Linked DNA regions of Homo sapiens: regions 1 and 2 are each reported to be linked to region 3. The links are microRNA targets in miRTarBase. Many come from high-throughput screens and were not tested one by one. Region 3 holds a microRNA gene; each other region holds the end of a gene's coding sequence.

Region 1 (7,165 bases), not on the chromosome of region 3:
AAACACCCAACTGCTCATATTTCTTCTGTGTACGATTTACTCTAATTTTGCTTTGAGGAAATGATTAATCAGAAACCAGAGGGATGTAGGCCGGGTGTGGTGGCTCACGCCTGTAATCCCAGCACTTTGGGAGGCCGAGGCGGGCATATCACCTGAGGTCGGGAGTTCGAGACCAGCCTGGCCAACATGGTGAAACCCCATCTCTACTAAAAATACAAAAATTAGGTGGGAATGGTGGCGCACGCCTGTAATCCCAGCTACTTGGGAAGCTGAGGCAGGAGGATCACTTGAACCCAGGAGGCGGAGGTTGCAGTGAGCCAAGATCACGCCACTGCACTCCAGCCTGGGCGACAGAGACTCCATACAAACAAACAAAAAAACCAGAGGAATGTATACCAGCGAGTTGAGATACATCTTTTTGGAAAGAACATCATCTTTAATGAATTCTGTAAGAATTGGTTCAGCAATTAACATGGGAAAGTTCATACAGGTGAGATCTTTTAAAAAAAGTTTTTAAAGAAAAGCAAAAAAGCAAGAATACTGGTGAAGATCCTTGGTTTCTAATAACGTGAATCTATTACACAGCAATTGAGCCACCTGGAGAATATGAAAATTCAAATTTCCACCCTCATCTACCTTCTGAAGACTGGGATACACAGTAGCCACCTTTATCTTTCTAGGCTATCTGGATGACTAGAATGCAGTAATGGTGCTAGGACAATTGACACCACTGCTGTCACCCTCACCCACAGTATAAAGTTATCTGTGATCTCTTTTCTGAAAATCTTAAGCTGTCTACAGGCTGGGGTTAAAGAACTTAGATAAGTTTTCTCTTCTTCAGAGAATTGTTTTCAGCAATTCCCTATCAGTTACACCTTTAAGGAACAGGTTAAACTGATTTATATAATTTTATTTTGTTGAAATTCTAACCATTTAGTTTTGGAACTGGACGTAGTCTTGAAAAGAGAACTAGTACCCCACCCTCGCAGGGTGAAAGAATTGGTAGTTGCTACTTTTCTACTGACCAGCAGCATATATTATACAGGAAGGTGACTTTTTTGAAACAGTCTTTCTCTGTTGCCCAGGCTGGAGTGCAGTGGCGTGACCTCGGCTCGCTGTAAGCTCCACTTCCCCAGCTCAAGCGAATCTCATGCCTCAGCCTCCCTAGTAGCTGAGACTACAGGTGTGCGACACCATGCCTGGCTAATTTTTGTATTTTTAATAGAGAGGGGTTTTGCCACATTGGCCAGGCTGGTCTCAAACTCCTGGCCTCAAATGACCCACCCGCCTTGGCCTCCCAAAATGCTGCAGTAACAGGTGTGAGCTACCGCACCCGGCCAGAAGGTGACTTTAGACATGTCAGTAGCCTTAGCGCACATCTACTGCCAGGACTTCTCTGATTTTAAGATTACAGGTTCTGGAAGCCTTTTAAACATTCTCTTTTACTTGTACACCTAGGGTGAACCCCTTGTGTGCAAATAACCTTAAAAGTTGCCTCCTCCAAGCCCAGCTTTTTTTTTTTTTTTTTTGAGACGGAGTCTCACTCTGTCACCCAGGCTAGAGTGCAGTGGCACAATCTTGGCTCACTGCAACCTCTGCCTCCCAGGTTCAAGCAATTCTCCTGCCTCACCCTCCCGAGTAGCTGGGATTAGAGGCACCTGCCATCACGCCCGGCGAATTTTTGTATTTTTAGTAGAGATGAGGTTTCACCATGTTGGTCAGGCTGGTCTCGAACTCCTGACCTTGTGATCTGCCCCGCCTCGGCCTCCCAAAGTGCTAGGATTACAGGTGTGAGCCACCGTGCCCGGCCTAGCCCAGCCTTTTCTTGATCTCAGTTCTATATACTACTGTTAGCATTAGTGATTTGGGCATTGACTGCTTCTAGTGGATGTGTGGGATGGTCTTGCTTATATTAAGTTCAGAGTCTCATTGTTCTCAGGTTTCTAGGATGCAGTGTAGTGTAGTAGCAAGTTTATAAACTTCAGAGCTCATGGGTCAAATCCCACTTACGCCACTTACTTGCATAACACTGTGGACATGTTGCTTAGCCTGAGTTCAACTTCCCCACGTAGAGTAAAACCTACTTTATAAGGTAGCTGTGAGGACCACTGTAACATCTGTAAAACACATAGTACAGTGCTCCAAAAGACAGTAGCTATCAATATGGTATGTTAGCAATAGAGCTCCATATTCTTTTGTGCATGAAATACAAAGAAAACAAGTAGCACTGGTAACAACACATTTATTTACGTACCCTGTTGTGTGACCGGGAGGTGTTTTTCACTTTCCAATAATTGATTCGGTTATAACAATTAAAATTCCAGAAGGTAAACTAGTAATTTATTGTTGCTCATAAGCATAGGTAAACAGACATGGTACCACAATAAAGGAATCTTAAACACTTCTAACCTTTTGGAATAGGTTTGAATATGGACCAATATACTTTGCCAATGGACCTAATAGATTACCAATATACTTCTAAATGTCATGGTTCTCTTCAGACACAACAGAAGAAATCTGGATCTAATTTTTAAACTTCAGAAATTTAACCAAGATGCTTAGGAAGATGCAAAAGGACAGCAGTACTTAAGCCTGTCATATTTATCACCAATATAACTGTATTGCTATTAAAAGTAAAATCATGGTAGGGAGCAGCCAACTAATTGCTAGTCTCAGTTCATAGATTTAGTATTTTTTGAAAATAATTCACCTCAGATGGCAGGCTATACAAGTTTAAAGTAGTTTTAACTTAACCTTTTGTGTACTAGTGAAAGCAATTCAGATAGATCCCAAGTCAAAGAACCAAACAGTGTATCAAGTTGGGTTTCATATCAGAAATCAGCCATTTCCAAACAACTGCATCGTATAGGACGTTTTCTTTCAGACTGCCTTTTATTCCTGGCTTCAAATCTTACTCACAGTATATGTTTTTAGAGAGTTTGGTAAGTGTAACAAATGGGTACTCATTGCTAGAGCAGGATATAAGAATGTGCTGATCACCAAGTATGAGATTTACATTACATTAAATTAAAATTATATAATGTTGGAAATAGACAATATAGGGAGTTCCCGGATCCTAGAAAATATTATGGCTAAGGAAACAGAGAACTCAAGAAATGAATCTACCTCCAAGAAACTAATTCAGTATAGTAAAATAGAATTAAGTGCCCTGTCTCAGGAAAAAGTTTATTAAGAATAAGGAACAAGTGGGACATCATACATCGTTTCTTTGGAGATTAAAGTGCAGGCTATGAAATGGCATATAAAATAATGCATAAAATAGTGCAATCTTAAGGTGCCATTATTTTTATTACACATAGCCTAGTTTTATGTCCATTTTCTCTCAAAAATCCAGCTGTAGTGACACCTTTTAGCTTATTAATTTAGGCATTACTTATACTGTTTTACCCACCTTTGGGGCTACATAGAATATTTTAACATTTTTAACACGTAGAATAATTGCGCATATATCTTGAAACTACTAAATAGAGATTAAGGCAAGCCCCTGTAAAGTTCAGTACTCCAAAAAAAGTGTTTTGCAAAAAAATTGCTTCCCAAATCAGTGGCTTTTGACCTGATGGTACCCCAATAGTCTTTAAAACTATTTTAAAGTATAATGACTCTCAATACATTTGCGTTTGCTCCATTATTTCCAGGCTCTGTACAGGAGTTTGAAAAACAACAGGTTCTATAACCTCAGAATCTGTGAAAACCAGTTAAGCCAAGTGCATGTGGGAGATAAGCAGAGGATCCGGCTGGGGTGGGGTAAGGTCAGCCGTTTCTGTCTCTTAGGCATGCCTTTTCACATTGCTATCCATGTGTGCAGCGCTGTACCAGAATACATTTCTATGTGGGAAGGACCCATTAACATGGAGACGTCTCCTCTGAAAAACAGCCAAGGAAGATAACGGGAATACTTTAAGAAATGTTGCACTAAGACAACGCAATATTAACAACACGCAGTATTTAAATACCTGACTTAAAATGCAGGGCAGAATGGTTCTCTCAGGAGGTTAATTTACAGTTTTCTTGTAACATATGTCAGTTCTAGCTGATCATAATAATCTGCGGTTTGTTGAACCTTAAATACCATTATGCTATCCATAGGTAAGCATAATGGCTATCAAATAACTGTCCTAACAAGTGGTGAAGGCAATATCCTAACATGTTTTAGCTAAATAGCCTAAGATTTAAGATTTGAACAACCGAACTGTAGTGCTTTATTCTCCTACTGCATGGAACATTCATGCATTAACAAGTACAATGAATTAGCTTTATGAATAGATGATTATAAGTGTATGCAATAGAAATTTGGATTTTGTAATAGAAAATTTACCTTGTAACAGTGTGACTACTTATTATGAAAGCCCTATACACATGTTAACTAATGGAAGACTACATAGATGTTTAGGCTATCTAGATGTAGTTTAAAAAGAAATTCAGGAAATTTTTAATAGTTCATGAATGACCATTAAAGAAACAGTCTGGGGCTGTATCCCTTTGATGCATACGGATCACACTCTGTAAATCTGTAAACACATGCTTTGATACGTAAAAAAAAAAGTCTTCCTATGACCGGAAAAGCAGACTAGTAGAGGCCCCGGGTATTCCACCAGGCCTCCTCTAAAGATATGCTAATATGGCTAAATACTATGATTATAAAAATGAGAAGTGCTGAGAAAACGAGTTCCAGACGGGGACTTTTATGGATGACCTTGGCTGACAAATGTTTTTTGGAAATTGTTTTATTTTAAAATTACCTTCCCAACAAACCATGAAACACTTGGATGTTACTTTATGGTTTTTCATTGAAAACATACTACATTGTAAATGGAATTTCAAAGTCAGACATAGAATTGATCAAAATCTAAGGACAATATTATGTAAGGACAATATTAAAAATGGATAGAAAAAGCTTCATTTGGTGAGGTTAATCTAAAGGATGCATAACCATGTCACGGTGGACGGATAAAAAAGGTGATAACCTTGTGCTTTTATTCAACTAAGGTACTTACCAAAACCTTAGGTTTTATACAGGTGTTAAGCTCCCACCTGGAAAGGGACAGTTTTCTATATTACACCTAAATTTACTTTAAATAACTGAAGCCCAAGGAAACAGTTGTTTAAAAGAACTTAACAGTCAAATAGCTACATAATTTAGTAAATTAAAATACAACTAAGACAGTGATAATTGAATGTCTCAAAACTATACAACTGGGGAAAATAACCACTGTACACAATTTGGAGGTTGTTAAAGCGACCACTCAGGAGGTTGAACAGTGCAAGACATGCTTTTCCAGTTACAAGCTCAAAATAGGAGTGCAAACAAAATTAAAGCTTTTGTTTAAAGTTGTAGGGTAAGGAAAGCTTGAAACTAATATTAAAAAGCTTCCCTCAAGGTCATCCTCCAGAAATGAAATAATCAAAATGCTTTTTCATGGTACAATTTTCCTCAATGAACTTTGCTGCAATGGCAAAACTGCATCCCGCAAGTCGAGTCCCCTACTCACTCACCACATCTGATCAATGATCACATGGTGGTGAGCAAAGAGGAGTATTAGCTCCCAGAGGTCCAATATTGATAGAAAGAGCCTTGAAATTTGGGGTTCTGCCTTAGCCAGTGTACCTGAACCCTACAGAGAGCAGATAAAGCAATGGGCTTTAATAGTCTCTTGTTCCTATAAAACTGGAGGACAAATGGATGAACAATTCCCCCTCTAGAGGCAAGCTGTTGCGGTGGAAGATGTTAAGCGTTTAAATAAACTAAGACGCCGCTCTAAAAAGTGGAGAAGTATAGAGGTTCAAGATCAATACCAGTGCAAGAGCTTTTTAAGTGAGTTGACTAGGCAATGCATGCATCCATCCATGCAAATGTAGGACATGGCCCCCAAAGAGAACTGAAAACATGTATAACAGCTGGGTAAGTTCCTTGCCAGTAGTTTATAAAAATATATAGTCAATATTGTAGAGGCTCCTTCTACAGTCAATACTATGGAAGTCCATTTTAGTTACCCATTACTTCAATACCAAAAAGCATTAACTACTTTTCAGACATTCCAGACAAAGGTCACTTATAACAAAAAGATGACTTAAAAAAAAAAGAACCAAGATAGTGTCCATTTAAAAAGTAGGTCTTTTCTTTCAAGTGAACAGGACATTTTCTGTATTAAACTTAACTTCTAGTCTGTCAAGACTGGGTTTAAGATCCTTACGTATGTATGTGCATATATGCAGAAACAAATTAACTTACTTTCAACATTATCTGCACAGAAAAAAGTTAACTCCTCAAAACATGATAGAACAGGTCTGGTTAGTACAAATCTATTGCAAAGTAAAAAGATTCTGTGCATCAGTTCAATCAGGAGAAGCAGGAAAAGAATGTCCCAACCATAAGAGTTCAAGTTTAAGTTGTGTTCTGAAAGCCTAGAAGCTTAAGGGACACCATGTTGCTCACAGTATCCTGATATGCATAACTGCTTAAGCTACTAAGCTGTGTCTTCCTCTGGAACTAGAACCACATTCCAATTTACTTTCTATTCCGAAGACGTTTAGATTTCCTAAGAGAGTCTATGGCTTCCGTGGCCTTTTTTCGTTTCCGAGGAGACTCCTCATTCTGCCCGGACCCTGAGGAATTTCCTACAGCACTTTCCATTACTTCTCGTAGTTTGCGTTCTAGCTCTGCCAACCGTGCATTTTGTTCACCTATGATCTGGGTCTGCTCTAGCAGTTTCTGGTCCTGGTCTTGAAGCTGTTTTTGCTGTTCTTGCACTTTGGTGCGAAGCTCAGAAATTTCACGCCTGAGAACAGTCACGCCAGCACCATTTGTTTTAACCTGCTGCTGGAGTTTGGTAACCTCTTGTCTTGAAGGATTTTGCTTGGAGAAGAGCTGCATTGTTGTTAGGGCTGCAGACGGTCCTGGAACTGTGGAGGAATAATTCAAAAGGGTCAGTCACTTAAAATGTCTCTCTACCAGTAATACTTACACTTATTTAAAAATGGAATACCCTTACTATGTCACTTCTGATAATTTCTTCTTCTTTGCAATCCATTTGGTCAGTTGGGTTAATCATCATAATTTAACACCTTATTTTAACTATAAATGAGTTTAAATTCTGATTCTCCTGCTCATGTGGCAGTATGTAGACTGCCAGGAAACGGAGAAGGG
Region 2 (7,199 bases), not on the chromosome of region 3:
AAGACATTATGCTACGTGAAATAAGCCAGGCACAGAAAACACAACTACAGCATGATTTCACTCATATGTGGAATCTACAAAAGTTGGAACTCATAGACACAGAGTGTAGAAGGGTGGTTACCAGGGGATGGGTTGGGGAGAGAGGAAGCTGTTGCTCAAGGAGTACATACCTGAGGTTATAAGAGGAACAAGTTCTGGAGACCTAATGTCCAGCATGGTGACTATAGTTAATGATAATGTGTTGAGTACTTGAAATTTGCTAAGAGAGTAGATCCTAAGTATTCTCATCACAAAAAAGGGCAACTATATGAGGTGACAGATATACTAATCAGCTTGATTGTGGTGATCGTTTCACAATGTAAACAAATATCAAAACATTATTTTGTAGACCTCAAATATATATAATTTTTATTTGTTGGTTACACTTCAGTAAAAGTGTAAGAAAAAAGAAAAGAAAGAATAATGAATTGCCTTCAAGTTTACTAGTAAAGGCTGATCTTAGTTTTCGTAAAGTCAGTTTGACTTCCCTTCTCCTTTGTTCCTTCCTGAAAATGCCACAAATGCCATATGTCACACCTACCAGGGCCATGTTCCAGGAGTCTTTTTTGGATTCCCTTTCCCAAGAAGATGTCTTTTGAATCACCCCCTTCCTGGGGCCAGATGACTCTCCATTAGAAAATTGTAATCAGGCTCCTTAATCCAAATAGCTTTATCACAGTTAAATTTCTCTTTTGGAAATTTCCATCAGTCTGCCCTTGGCTTTTACTGGCACATCATCCATTCAGGTGCCCCCAGGGGAAGTGCCTCGCTTAGTAAGAATGGAGACAAAGGAGAGGAGAAGGGAACTGTGGGAGGGTGAGAGAACCAGTGCTGACTGGCTTCTCTCGCCTTCCCTCGCCTTCCCTCACCTTCCCCACCTGGACCCTGGCTGCCTCTCTAGGGAACTCTGTCTCGCTGGCTAGATCCAGCTTCCTCTAAGTCTCATTCTTTGTTCTGGTGTTTGTCACAAGGGTTCATAATATTCTGGGAAGAGCTTGAATTTGGCATCAGAAGACCTGTGTTTGTGTCTGCCTCTTACTATCTGCTTTCTCCTGGGAAATCATCTAACCTCTCAGAACTTCGTTGATAAAATAAGAATATCTACCACTTGTGGTTCTTATCAGACTCAAACACATGTATATGAAAAGCTTTTTGTGAACCATGAAAACCCACATAGACATAGGTCAGATTGCTCTTGGCCATCGATAGTAAAAATATCTATCTTTAATCACAAAGGGAGTGTGGCAGAGGCAAACATTCAAACACATTTCATCCTTTTGTAGTATAGAATGGTCAATGGGAAGTGGCTGCCCCACAAGGATGATATCTCCCAGTCTACTTTGCTTGTGAGTGGGTTGAAGTGACCAGCTTTTACTAATACAAGAATATCAGCGAAAGTAATGAGTACTACTTCAAAATCAAGGTAGTCAGAAGTGTGTGTGTGCTTTTTCTAATTTTTGTGCCATCTACTGATAGATGAAAAACACTCCAGGGCCCCAGAGTCCGACAGAGTTACAAAATAGAAGGAAACAGAGTCCCTGAATCATCACATGGAAGAAAGCCACCTGCTGACCAAGAACATCTTTATTGGATTATTATGGGAGTGAGAAATAAACTTTTATTTTGATAAGGTATTGAAATATTGGGGTTTATTACAGCAGCTAACATGACCCTAGTGAAAAATGAGCCAAAGGGATGGGCATGTTGTGGCTCAATCAGTAAGAAGTGCTGAAAATGAACACGTGCACAATGGCTAACAATGTCTTCTTCATATTGAATAATACACAGGCCATAGGGCCAAGGAGTTGCAAAGGGGCATCTGCAATGGTGTGTCAATTAAGGTAGCCAGGCAGTTTGAGTGTGTGCATGCACGTGTGCGTGCATGTGTGCACACATGCACACACACTACTTTTGTATATATTCTAGGATCACAATATTAAAGCTAGAAGTAATTGACTTCAGAGGTCATTTATGAAAACCTCACTTTATAGTTCAGGAAATTGTGATCCAGGGAGACAATGCATCCAAAGAGAAGATGGATTGTTAGTGGGGGCATCTAAACTAGTACCCAGGGCTTCAGATTCCTGGGATGAATTCCTCAATTCTCCTCCTATGGTTCATTCCAGCTTCTGTTTTGACAAAGCCTAACACCTGGATAACCCAGAAAGGACTCAGAAAATGGGAGCGATGATGGACACAAATGGATTTTGTGATTTTGTGATTTTGCATCTACCATTTAATCTGCTAAAAGGTTTTTTTTTTTTTCATTTTTAATTTAGTGGCTGGCAAAAAACTGAATGAGGCTTTTAGTCCAACCATTTTTCCCTGCCTGCTTTTTGTGCTAATCTGTTTCACTCACAAATTCCATTGACATCTTGTTCTTAGCCTCCATGGTAGGAATTGTGTTCCTGATGCTGCTTTATCAGCCCCAATTTTGGCCATAAGTTTAAGCCCAGGACCCTACTGCAGACACCTTCTAAACCTCAGCAGAGGGCACAGTGGGGCCACAGGTAGGATCCACTTACCCTTAGCCTTCCTCTTGACCTCTATCCTAGCCATGCTTACTGCTGCCATTCCATGACTGTGCCGTGTCATGCTTTACCCTTGTGCCTTTGAATGTGCTGTTCACTTTTTGTCCATCCTTCAATATGAAGCCCCTCACCAAAGTAAATCATGATTTCATCTTCCTTCAAGATCCTACTTACCTGTTACATTCTCTGTGAAGTCTTTCCCAATTCTTCCAGGCTGAGTTAATGTTTCCTTCCATTGTGTTCCCATGGCATTCTGTTTAGGTCACTCTTAGAGTGTTCAGGGCATAGGACTGCCATTAGCATTTGCACTTTGGTGTCCACATGCATCATAAACCTCTTCCCATCACTTGGCTTTTAGAAGGGGCAATAGTACCTACAATGTGATCATCACCCTCCTCTCCACACCTGGGTTGTTTGTACCAGAAGTGAACATTTGACACAAAGCACCCAGTCCATAGGCACTGTGACTGCCTTCTACAAAGGATTCTGCCTTCTCAGAATGGCCCTCTGGAGATGGAGAGTTGACCATATTCTCTTGATAGAGAATTTGCACTCAGAGGAAAAGAGGGAAGTTCCAGTTCATTGTGGTGATCAAAGCTGTGAGGTCATGATATAGTGTCAGGGCTGGTGACTGTGCTGGGCTATGTGCAAGAAAATAAATCAGAGGAAGCACCTTGGGAGATAAAGGAAGAGGATGGGCCCAATGGGCAGAGGGAAGCAAGGGTGAGAGAGGCCAGGTGGCTTGGGGGAGGTAGGGAATGTGGGCTCAGTTCCTGATGGCTTTCAGGCTCCTACGGCCTGGCTGTGCCTCCTGCCTTGGGTTCCACAAGATCCTGCCACCAGGCCTTCGCAGTATTGCCCCTGTTCTTTGAACAAGTTTAGTGGGCTTCTTGATCACTTGCCCCATGTAGACTGTGAGTTCTTTTGTTTGTTTGTTTGTTTGTTTTGTTTTGTTTTAGAGAGAGTCTTGCTCTGTCGCCTAGGCTGGAGTGCAGTGGCACAATCTTGGCTCACTGCAACCTCTGCCTCCTGGGTTAAGCAATTATTGTGCCTCAGCCTCCTGAGTGACTGGGATTACAGGCATGTGCCACCATGCCTGGCTAACTTTTAAAAATTTTAGTAGAGCTGTTAGCCAGGCTTGTCTTGAACTCCTGGCCTCAAGCGATCCACCCACCTCAGCCTCCCAAAGTGCTGGGATTATAGGCATGAGCCACCATGCCCAGCCTAGACTGTGAGTTTCTTGAGGTCAGGAACTATGTCTTGCTCTTCTTTGTATCACCAGAGTGTCATTCAATATATTCAACATGCTCCTAAATTTTTTGTTGAATGAATGATGAGTAAATGAATGAGTGAAGACATGTCTGTTGGTAATAGGTGCAGGGCACTGTTTTCCTAGCTGGAGTCTGTCACGGCCAATGCCTTTCTGATACAGAAACCTCCTTCCTCCATAATTACCACAGCTTTTACTACTACTTACATCTTCCAACTTCGCAAAGTCCAGGTTTTGACAAGTGGCATTTTCCTGAAGTATTTTTGCTTAGAATATACTGGGTCTGACACATTGGCACCTGAGTGTGAGAGGAGGTGACACCTTCACCTGAGTCACGTCTCCTCACAAGAAGCCCACAGTGGCCCCCTGGACCTTTCACTGAAGAAACACAGGTAGAAGCAAGCTGTATGTAGAGAGATATAGTATAGCTTTTATTTTTTTTTTGAACCAACCCAACATTTCCACTGGCAACTGTCAACATAGCTTATGACATGAGCACTGTTTCTTTTTTAATTATTTTTTTCTTAAAAAATGTGTTTAAAATTAACAGGTGTTTTTTAATTTCTTCCCCCCCCCCCTTAGAAAATGTATTTATGTCAATGCAGAAAGCCTAAAGATCCGTGGGCAGTTTCGTGATGACATCTTATGTCTGTTTATTTGTGTGTTTGTGTGCGTGTTTTAAAGCCAGGTCCTTCCCACATTCGTTGAGAAAAGGTCTGTAGGGCACGGAGATCTCTTTCTCCAAAAACCCAGGCTCCAAGGGATTATGACAACTAAGATTCCTCTTACTGGAGCAAGAACTACCCCATAGGCTGGAAAAATAGCTTCATGAAGTTTAAGAACAAGCAGGAACATGGGAGAAATGAGGAATTCCAGTTCCTATCTTGTAAAAATGCTTTCATATGTGACCTGAGGGACCAGGAGAGGTGAAGGGAGCCCCTGGTTCTCTTATAAAATCTCTAAGTTTTTACACCACTTCAAGAAATATAGTCAGCCCTCTTTGTATAGAGCATTAGGAAGCAAGAGCGTGGTGAAGCTGACATTTCTCAGGCACATTGACATTTAAAATACAAACTTTTCTCTTAAAGATCTCACTGGTTGGACATCTCTTCTCTCCTGCCTCAGGTACAAAGCCAAAGATAATCAAGAAGGCCTGTATCCCTTTTGTTCTTCCAGTAGCCCTTTGTCGTCACACACCATTCCTATTTTTGTCCCATCTCTTCTATTTGGCGGGTCTTCCTGCAGAAGGATACACAAGTGGACACTGACACAACAAGACACACAGAATTGGAAAGGCTTGGGCAAAGAGGGACAATTGCTTTTTGTATCTGACTTGATTCAACATAAGCATAAAAAGCTCCTCCTGCTCCAGTTGAAGCTCCTGTAAGATCTTTAGTACCCTGCGTGGGTGAGTGAGCTTATTTCTACCCCAACACCATCACTCCTCCCAAGAACTCAGAGAAAACAGTGAGATGGGGAACTGGATCTTGATGGAGCCAAGAGGTGGCAGGAGAGCATGTGTCTAAAAATTCATGTTTCTCTCTGTTGGCTCGGACCTGGAATTCCTTTGTGGCACCTTTTTCACTCACTTCAGAAAAAAAAGACAAAACAAAATAATAAGCAAAACCTAATGGCAAAACGAAAGCAACCACAATAATGATTACAATGAAAAAAGAACCCCACCCCAGCCACATGAATGTGACTCATTTTCACGTCTTGTCAGCTGAGTGAGATAATAGGGACATATGGAATTGGGCAGAGAGGAGAAACCCTGCTTCCAAAGAAATGAGAGGCAAAGGAATAATCAAAAGATGGAATAGAAGGAGGCGAAAGGCTCTGACCTTTGCTTTGGGTCAGGGATATGAGGGGGAGATGGGGTGGAGGTGGATTTGTTGCTGTTGCTTGTTTGTATTCAATTAAATACTGTGTAAAGTCGGTGATTCCTCCATTGTTTGATTGATTAAGACTTTGCCCTTTCAGTTAATTGCCAGGGCCTAAGTTGGGTGAAGTTCCTGGGGCTTAGGTCCTGATGCTGCCTCTCCAGGGCAGTGCAGTCGGGAGAGATCACTGGTGGGGAAGTGCCCTTCTCTTAGGAGAAGTCCTAGGCCTGCCCTGCTGGAGGCTCTGTTGTGTGGCTTAGAACCCCTTGATGTAGCAATAGGCCTCTAGTGTGGCAAAGAGTATGTAGAGGAGCCACAGGCTCACAAAGAGCCATGTTGTGGCGAGCTTGCAGCCACGGGGGCCACCAAGCTCCCCTCCCAGGTGCGGCCGCCTTCGGTACAAGAGCACGCTGATGCAGACAAATGCAAAGATGGTGAAGAGGGTGACGGAGAAGGCCAGTGTGCCGGCCGACACGTGGAACTCCTGTCCCTGCAGAGCCCAGTAGATGGCGGCCACGGACCAGGCCAGGCCGATGCCCAGGAAGACATTGACGGCGTTGCTGCCCGTCACGTTGCCAATGGAGGCGTCTGCATATACATCCTGGAGGGCAGCAGCTTTGCTGGCAAACGTATCTGGAAAAGGACAAAGACACATGGGAACTGGTAGGAGGCTAAGGTGTGCAGGGCTTGTCTTCCAGTATGCCCAAAAAGCAGCTTGAGCTGGTGGGCTGAACCCAGGAATGAGAGACAAGGGCTAGGGGGCCACTCCTAACTCCTAGTTCTGCCGCAAGCAAGCCGTGTGGCCCTGGGTAGGTCACATCCCTAGTCTGGGCTTCCCATTCCTCATCTGCAGTGATCTGAAAGATTCTGAAGGGCTTTCCAGTTCTGATATTTACTGAGTGGGCTTATTGTTCTCCTTTGACTACTTTTTCAGTAAGGGAAGTTTGCCATCCCATAATATCTCCCCAGGGAACCTTGACACCCTGGGAAGCTGCTTGGAGTAGATGCCTGATTTTAACTGTCATATGGGGCATTTATTCACGAACCACCAACAGTTATTGAGCAATGCCTACTGATTGAGCACTGGGTGAGGTGCTGGATTTTGGGGACAGAGGACATGTTGGGGAACCATGATGGGGACATGCAGGGTGAACTGTGGACTCAAGGAAGACGGGGCTCTGTCTTTGTGGTTTATATATGTATCACAGGGCCTTGCAGGGTGTTTGACTTTAGATCTTGGCACAGATTGTAGATACAGGGAGGACTGTCAGAGACATCTAGCCCAATTCTTTTATTTTACAGGTAAGAAAAATAAGGGTCAAAGAATTTACCCAAGGTCACATAGGATGTTAGCAAGAGACTTGACCCTAAAGTCCTCATGTAAGGACCCTTTCCATACCTTCAACTATATCCAAAGAGCTTCAGCCAAAGCCACTAAATCAGATGAGTGGATCACAGGGTAACCTTCTTAAAGCCTCA
Region 3 (7,199 bases):
TCCAGGACCACAGACTGTGGTGACACAAGTGCCCTGGGCAGAGGGCAGCCTTCTGCCTTTTTAGTACTGGGCTCCCCAGCTGCTCTCCCCGGCCCGGACTCGTCAGAAGCCACGGTGACTATTGACACATCTGCATCCTCTGGCAGAGGCAGATGGGACATCTCTGGCAAAATGGTCTATTCTGTGCTTGAAGTACAGAACCCAGTGGGAAACTGCTTTATTTTTGGAGTCCAACATTCTGGAAATTTCTGTTAGAACCCACCAGCCTCACTGGAAAATTCTGAGTGCTGATGGTGGTTGACTGAGAAGGGATAATGAGTGTTGTTGCGAGGTCTCCGATCTCAAGCCGTAATTAACCTTGTTGAACTCTGAGCGGTGGTGTGTTTCCCTGGATACCGCCGGGTGTGCTTGTTCTATTTCGTTCCTGCGTTTTTAGAGCTTTGCGGTTCCCTGTGTGTGCACCACTGTGCGTGCTCCCGCTCTGTCTTTCTAACTCAGCCGGGCCTGGGAGAGCAGGAAGCTGTTTTGTCTGTCTTGATTCTTGCTGCCAGGTGATACTTCTCGGTGTGCAGGAGGCCCTTGTCCATCATCTGAACTTGGCTGATTGGCATTCAGCTTGAGTGTGCTTGAGACCAACCGAGGAGAGTTGGGTTCTGTGGGTCAGCAGAGGGTCCCCGGGCTGTGTGTTCTGGAGGCCTCAGATAGTTGCACAGCCAGGCCTGAGGCCGTGTTTTCAGAAATCCCGGCTCTTTCGCTGTCAAGTGGCCCCACCCTTTTTTTTTTTTTTCTTTTTTCTTTTTCCAGCTGTGGGCATGGATTGGCTGGGGCAGGGTGGCCAACCCAGGCGGCCACGCAGGGGTGCTCAGAGGCGCCAGCTTGACCACCTTAACCTCTTTGTCTTTCTCCCCTGCAGCACATGGACGGCAGCTTCTCTGTGAAGCCTTTAAAGCAGAAGCAAATTGTAAGTCATCAGAGGAAATATGACGTGCTTGAATTAAAAGACACACATATACAATCACTCACACGCATACTCATACATAGACACACACTCATACACACGCACATATACTCATACACGCTCATACACACTCATACACATTCACTTGCACATATATACGGACACACATACATACCATCAGACACTCACATTCACACATATATAGACACATAAACACACAGACACACACATACACACATAAACACACTCCTACTCGCACACACTCATACAGACACGACACTCATACACACATACACTCACACTCACATGCAGTCATTCAGATGCACACACTCAGACACACTCATATACTCAGTCACACACATATACATAGACACACTCGTACACATACACACATACACTCACACTCACTCACATATACATAGACACATACTGATACACACACATATACCCATTCACACACACATAGACATTCATACACATATACACATACACACACGTATACAGACACACACTCATACACATACCCACACATATACTCACACACATAAACTCACATGTATACTCATACACATATACATAGACACACATTCACTCGCACACATATACAGACATACATACACACAATCACTTGCACACATATACATAGACACACTCATACAATCACTCACGCACATATACAAAGACGCATACACTCACATAGACACACACACATACACATATGTACAGACACACATATACTCACACACACTTATATATAGACACACACACACACTCTTCAGTAGTCTTCATGCACTGGTCTTCCTAGGCTACCCTTGCTGCTGCCTTTGAAATAACTGTGCAGGGGCTGGGCGCAGTGGCTAACGCCTGTAATCCCAGCACTTCGGGAGGCCGAGGTGGGCAGATCACTTGAGCCCAGGAGTTTGATATCAGCTTGGCCAACATGGTGAGACCCCGTCTCTACTAAAAATAAAAAAATTAACCGGGTATAATAACACATGCCTGTAATCTCAGCAACTCAGGAGGATGAGGTAGGAGAATGGCTTGAACCCAGGAGGTGGAGGTTGCAGTGAGCCGAGATCATGCCACTGCACTCCAGCCTGGGTGACAGAGGAAGACTGTGTCAAAAAAAAAAAAAAAAAGCTGTGCAACAGCCTGTTGACTTCCCTGTAGAGCTCTAAGCTCTGGGACGACGGGTCCCTGTCTTGGGTGAGCATATATGTTTTGCGTGCCCGCCATGTACAGGGACGCCTGCAGGCCCTGAGTTCTGTCCAGTTTGAGCCATTGTGTCTGGAACATAGTGTTAAGTAAATATTTGCCGAATGGATGGATGGAAAAGGAAGGAAAGAGACCAGAAACAAAGTCTGCAACTCCTTCTCCTCTTCCTTACAAATTGTCCAATATGTCAGTATTGGACAGAGACTTAGCTTGACTTCATCAATACTTGAAAAGAAGGATTAAATAGTTGAGAATAAATGGAGCTATAGAGCAGTACATCTGTTCTCTGGGGTCAGCGATCCTGGGATGCTGCATTGGGAAGTGTTATTCCTGGTGGCCTCACAAGTAGGCACCGAGAATTTAGAGGATGGGGTGCCCTAAACAGCAGTGTTAGATCTTGCTAATGAGATGTCCTAGGCCACAGCTAACAGTTACTCCGTGTGTACTGTTGGGGCGCATAAGACCTGTTTCAAGCCACCACTTGGGAATGATTTTTGTTAGTTTTTAATTTTTTAAATATTTAATTTAATTTTAATTTTAATTTTATTTTATTGAGACAAGACAGAGTCTCGCTCTGTTGCCCAGGCTGGAATGCAGTGGCGCGATCTCAGCTCACTTCAACCTCTGTCTCCCAGGTTCAAGTGATTTCTCGTTCAGGCTCCCAAGTAGCTGGGACTGCAGGTGTGCGCCACCACAGTTGGTTAATTTGTTTTGTTTTATTTTGTTTTGTATTTTTGAGATGGAGTCTCACTCTGTCGCCGAGGCTGGAGTGCAGTGGCATGATCCCAGCTTACTGTAGCCTCCACCTCCTGGGTTCAAGTGATTCTTCTGCCTCAGCATCCCGAGTAGCTGGGACTACAGGCACGCGCCACCATGCCTGGCTAATTTTTGTATTTTTTGTAGAGATGAGGTTTTGCCATGTTGGCCAAGCTGGTCTCAAACTTTTGGGCTCAAGTGATCCACCAGCCTCGGCCTCCTACTAAAGTGCTGGGATGATAGGTGTAAGCCACTGCACCCGGCCATCTGTTAGCTTTTTAGAAGAGAGTTTGTCCAGGTGCAGTGGCTTATGCCTATGATCCCAGCACTATGGGAGGTGGAGGCAGGAGGATTGCTTGAGCCTGGGGATTCCAGACCAGCCTGGGCAATGTAGCGAGATCCTGTCTATTTAAAATGTAAATCACAATAAACAAAAGAGAGGTGCAGCAAACTCTAGCAGGTCCAGGTCCCTGCAGGTACCAGGGGAACAGGAGACCCCAGTGATGGTCAGGGCCTTGTGTTGAGAGAGCTGACCAGCAGGCCCTGGGCTCCCTGGAGTGGTGCTCCTGGCCCATGGTCTCTGGGAAACCCAGCAGCACAAACCGCTTTGCAATGTGGTCAGCGTGAGGCTTTTTGGTTGCAAGTGGGTGGCAGGACAGAATCAGCTTGGAGACATTGCTTTGGCGTCTTTGAAACCAGAGAGGCTTCATGCCTTTTGGAAGGAGGATCTGGAAAGCAGTGGGAACTTAGGCTGCTGTCTGGTGCCTTCAGGCGTCAGCTCCTGCTTTCCTCGTGGGGCTGGTGGTGGTGGAGCCAAGTGGTGTTGGGGGTGGTGAGGCGGTCAGGGGGTGGTGGTTGGGCCTGTGGGTTGGCTTCAGGCCCCCAGTAGTGGGGAGAGCCACCGGCTCCAGCCCTGTTCCAGGTGCTGCTGGTTGGGTGGGGGCAAGCAGCAGGTTTTCCCTGCCCTTCTCCTGGCCCCCAGGGGTTGAGCTGGACTGACCCCTGGTATGGAAGCCTGGTAAGTTGGAGGCAGGGCTAGGCCAGGTGGGTATGGAGGAGCCCTCATATGGCAGTTGGCGAGGGCCCAGTGAGCCCCTCTCTGCTCTCCAGGTGGACCGGGTCAGCTACCTCCTGCAGGAGATCTATGGCATTGAGAACAAGAACAACCAGGAGACCAAGGTGTGTATCTGGGTGAGGTTTCCCTCTGCCATTACAGAAGCCCACACCAGGAGCAGCCGCGGACAGCAATGCTTGCCGGTTCCCTTCCATGCCTTCCCCTGGAGTCCTAGACCCGCTAGACAACATCATTTTTCCTTAATTTTTTTTAAAGCTAACAGTTTAGGGAACATTTTATCCTTTCTCCAGCAAATTCACTAGCTTCTGATGTAAATTGCCATCCAGGTTCCCCAGGGCAGCCCAGGAATGGGGGCCAGTGTCTCACCCTCTAGGCTCAGGTGTGTGGCACCCTGCTGCCCGGCTCCTGCCCGCCTCCCCAGAGACAGCACGTCCCTGCAGCTCCTGGGGGAGGGATGCTTATTCTGTATGTCCATAGAACCAGTCCTGGTGCCTGACAAATAAGCCGTGGTGTACCCCAGTCAGGGAATGTAGCAGGGGATGAAATTAGTTTTTTTTGTTTTTGTTTTTTGAGTCAGTCTCACTCTGCTGCTCAGGCTGTAATGCAGCAGGGAGATCTTGGCTCACTGTGGCCTCCGCCTCCCGGGTTCAAGCGATTCTCCTGCCTCAGCCTCCTGAGTAGCTGGGACCACAGGCACGCGCCACCACACCCGGCTAATTTTTTGTATTTTAGTAGCGACGGGGTTTCACCATGTTGGCCAGGATGGTCTTGATCTCCTGACCTTGTGATCCACCCTCCTCGGCCTCCCAAAGTGCTGGGATTACAGGCGTGAACCACCGCGCCCAGCCTAATTTTTAATTTTTGTATTTTTAGTAGAGATGGGGTTTCACTATGTTGGCCAGGCTGGTCTCAAACTTCTGATCTCAAGTGATCTGCCTGCCTCAGCCTCCCAAAGTGCTGGGATTTCAGGCCTGAGACCACCACGCCTGGTCGATGAACTTGTTAAAAGGCACACTGACATGAGTGAAACTCCTGCCTCTTAAGATCTCTTGGAAAGTCTCACAGGCCCGCTTCATTATGGCATCTGGGCCCAGGACAACTGGAGCAGCTCCACGTGGCGGGAGCGGAGCACCTGGCCGGGCCTCGCCTCAACCCAGGGAAGTCAGTGCATTCATGTTTCATACCAGGGGGCGGCCCACTTTGAGAAAAGGTTCAGAGAGGGAATGTTTTCAGCCGCCCGGGCATATGGTCTCTGTTGCACTGACTCCACGCTGCCATTACAACAGGAGCAGCGGGGACTGTATAAAAATGAGTGGGTGTGGCGGTGTTCCAGTAAGATTTTATTTATAGAAACAGGCCACAGGCCTAGTTTGTGGACACCTGTTTTAGATTTTTGGCTTTCTTTTTGTCCAGTTGCTAATGTGGTTTCTGGTAGCTGCCATTAATGAAAATACTTCTAACATATTAACTTGTTTTTTGTTTTTTTTGTTTGTTTGTTTTGAGATGGAGTCTTGCTCTGTTGCCCAGGCTGGAGTGCAGTGGCAGCCATCTTGGCCCACTGCAAGCTCCGCCTCCTGGGTTCACGCCATTCTCCTGCCTCAGCCTCCTGAGTAGCTGGAACTACAAGCACGTGCCACCATGCCCGGCTAATTTTTTGTATTTTTAGTAGAGACGGGGTTTCACTATGTTAGCCAGGATGGTCTCGATCTCCTGACCTCGTGATCTGCCCGCCTCAGCCTCCCAAAGTGCTGGGATTACAGGCGTGAGCCACCGCGCCTGACCATTAACTTGGTTTTTTTTAAACCAAAGATAACGGGTACCCTGACCCTCAGGAAGATGTGTTTCTTAGGTGCATCTGTTCCTCATTTTTTCTTTAGGTCTGAAGAACAGAAAGAGACCATGTTCTCATGATTTGGGTGGGTGAGGGGCACAGACCCTCCCCCTCTGCCAGGTGCTGAGTTTGCACTGGATTTGAGCCTGGTGATTCTGCTCTGGGGCAACCTCCCCCTCCCCTCTGGACTTCTCTTTGTCATGACAGCCCCCAGGGTAGGGTGGAGTGGGGTGGGACAGCTGGGGACAGGAAGCAGGAGCCGTACTCTGGCCTTTGGGAGGCTGCTGACCCACAAGCCCTTGTCCCGGCAGCCCTCGGACGACGAGAACAGCGACAACAGCAACGAGTGTGTGGTGTGCCTGTCCGACCTGCGGGACACGCTGATCCTGCCCTGCCGCCACCTGTGCCTCTGTACCTCCTGCGCCGACACGCTGCGCTACCAGGCCAACAACTGCCCCATCTGCCGGCTGCGTGAGTTCCCCGGCCGGCTGTTCTGTGGAAGGTTCTGGAAATTAGGGACTGGCCACACCACGGTGGTCCTGGGATAGGGGGCCACAGGTCCGTTGATGGCTAAGAAAGAAGAGTTGTCATTCATCTAGTCTGTGCTGAACGTGGGCGTGTTGGCTGTCGGAGTCAGTCACCGTGAGAGAGCTGGCAGGGACGCTAGCACGGGGCATTCAGATCTTCACGTCTGCCTCCAGCCAGGCAAGGCTTGCAGAACAAAGGGCTACAGAGGCGCTCCAGGGCAGATGAACTGAACGAAAATTGATGAGTGAATGAAATCTTTATTCTTATTTTATTTTTATTATTTTTTGTTTGAGACAGTTTCGTGCTGTCGCCCAGGCTGGAGTTCAGTAGCGAGTTCTCAGCTTACTGTAACCTCTGCCTCCTGAGTTCAAGCAATTCTCCTGTCTCAGCCTCCCTAGTAGCTGGGATTGCAGGCAACTGCCACCATGGCCAGCTAATATTTTACTTTTATTAGAGATGGGGTTTTGCCATGTTGGCCAGGCTGGTCTTGAACTCCTGGCCTCAAGTAATCTGCCTGCCTCAGCCTCTCAAAGTGCTGGTGTTACAGGCATGAGCCACCATGCCTGGCTATTTTATTTTATTTTATTTTTTTGAGATAGAGTCTCGCTCTGTCACCCAGGCTGGAGTGCAGTGTTGCAGTCTCGGCTCACTGCAAACTCCGCCTCCCGGGTTTAAGTGATTCTCCTGCCTCAGCCTCCTGAGTAGATGGGATTACAGCCCTGCACCACCATGCCTGGCTAATTTTTGTGTTTTAAGTGGAGATGGGGTTTCACCATGTTGGTCAGGCTGGTCTGGAACTCCTGACCTCGTGATCTGCCCTCCTGGGCCTCCCAAAG

The links. Region 3 holds the annotated microRNA hsa-miR-6769a-3p (GAGCCCCUCUCUGCUCUCCAG, at 4,019-4,039, shown strand). A microRNA usually pairs through its seed, bases 2 to 8, with sites in the 3' UTR of a target mRNA and lowers its output. Matches are read on the target gene's strand: a 7mer-m8 pairs with bases 2 to 8, a 7mer-A1 pairs with bases 2 to 7 and ends in A, and an 8mer does both.
Region 1: the mRNA of FBXO28 is a reported target of hsa-miR-6769a-3p. Seed matches in the 3' UTR shown: 7mer-m8 at 3,501-3,507.
Region 2: miRTarBase lists SLC8A3 as a target of hsa-miR-6769a-3p. Seed matches in the 3' UTR shown: 7mer-m8 at 4,775-4,781.

What each region holds. Positions count from the first base shown.
Region 1 is chr1:224,157,108-224,164,272 of GRCh38, reverse strand. FBXO28 (F-box protein 28) reads right to left here. Exons shown (of 5, transcript NM_015176.4): 5 at 2,226-6,921. The coding sequence ends at 6,527. Among named protein-coding and RNA genes, the nearest start is that of DEGS1, 23 kb to the left of the region's middle. RefSeq lists enhancers at 1,361-1,861, 3,632-3,926 and a silencer at 3,632-3,926.
Region 2 is chr14:70,039,971-70,047,169 of GRCh38, forward strand. It overlaps SLC8A3 (solute carrier family 8 member A3), which reads right to left. Exons shown (of 7, transcript NM_182932.3): 7 at 4,245-6,353. The coding sequence ends at 5,977. Among named protein-coding and RNA genes, the nearest start is that of SNORD169, 65 kb to the left of the region's middle.
Region 3 is chr16:4,667,352-4,674,550 of GRCh38, forward strand. It overlaps MIR6769A (microRNA 6769a), which reads left to right and starts at 3,967; the gene lies at 3,967-4,039. It overlaps MGRN1 (mahogunin ring finger 1), which reads left to right. Exons shown (of 17, transcript NM_015246.4): 8 at 914-961; 9 at 4,040-4,108; 10 at 6,147-6,306. RefSeq lists enhancers at 5,717-6,306, 6,307-6,894.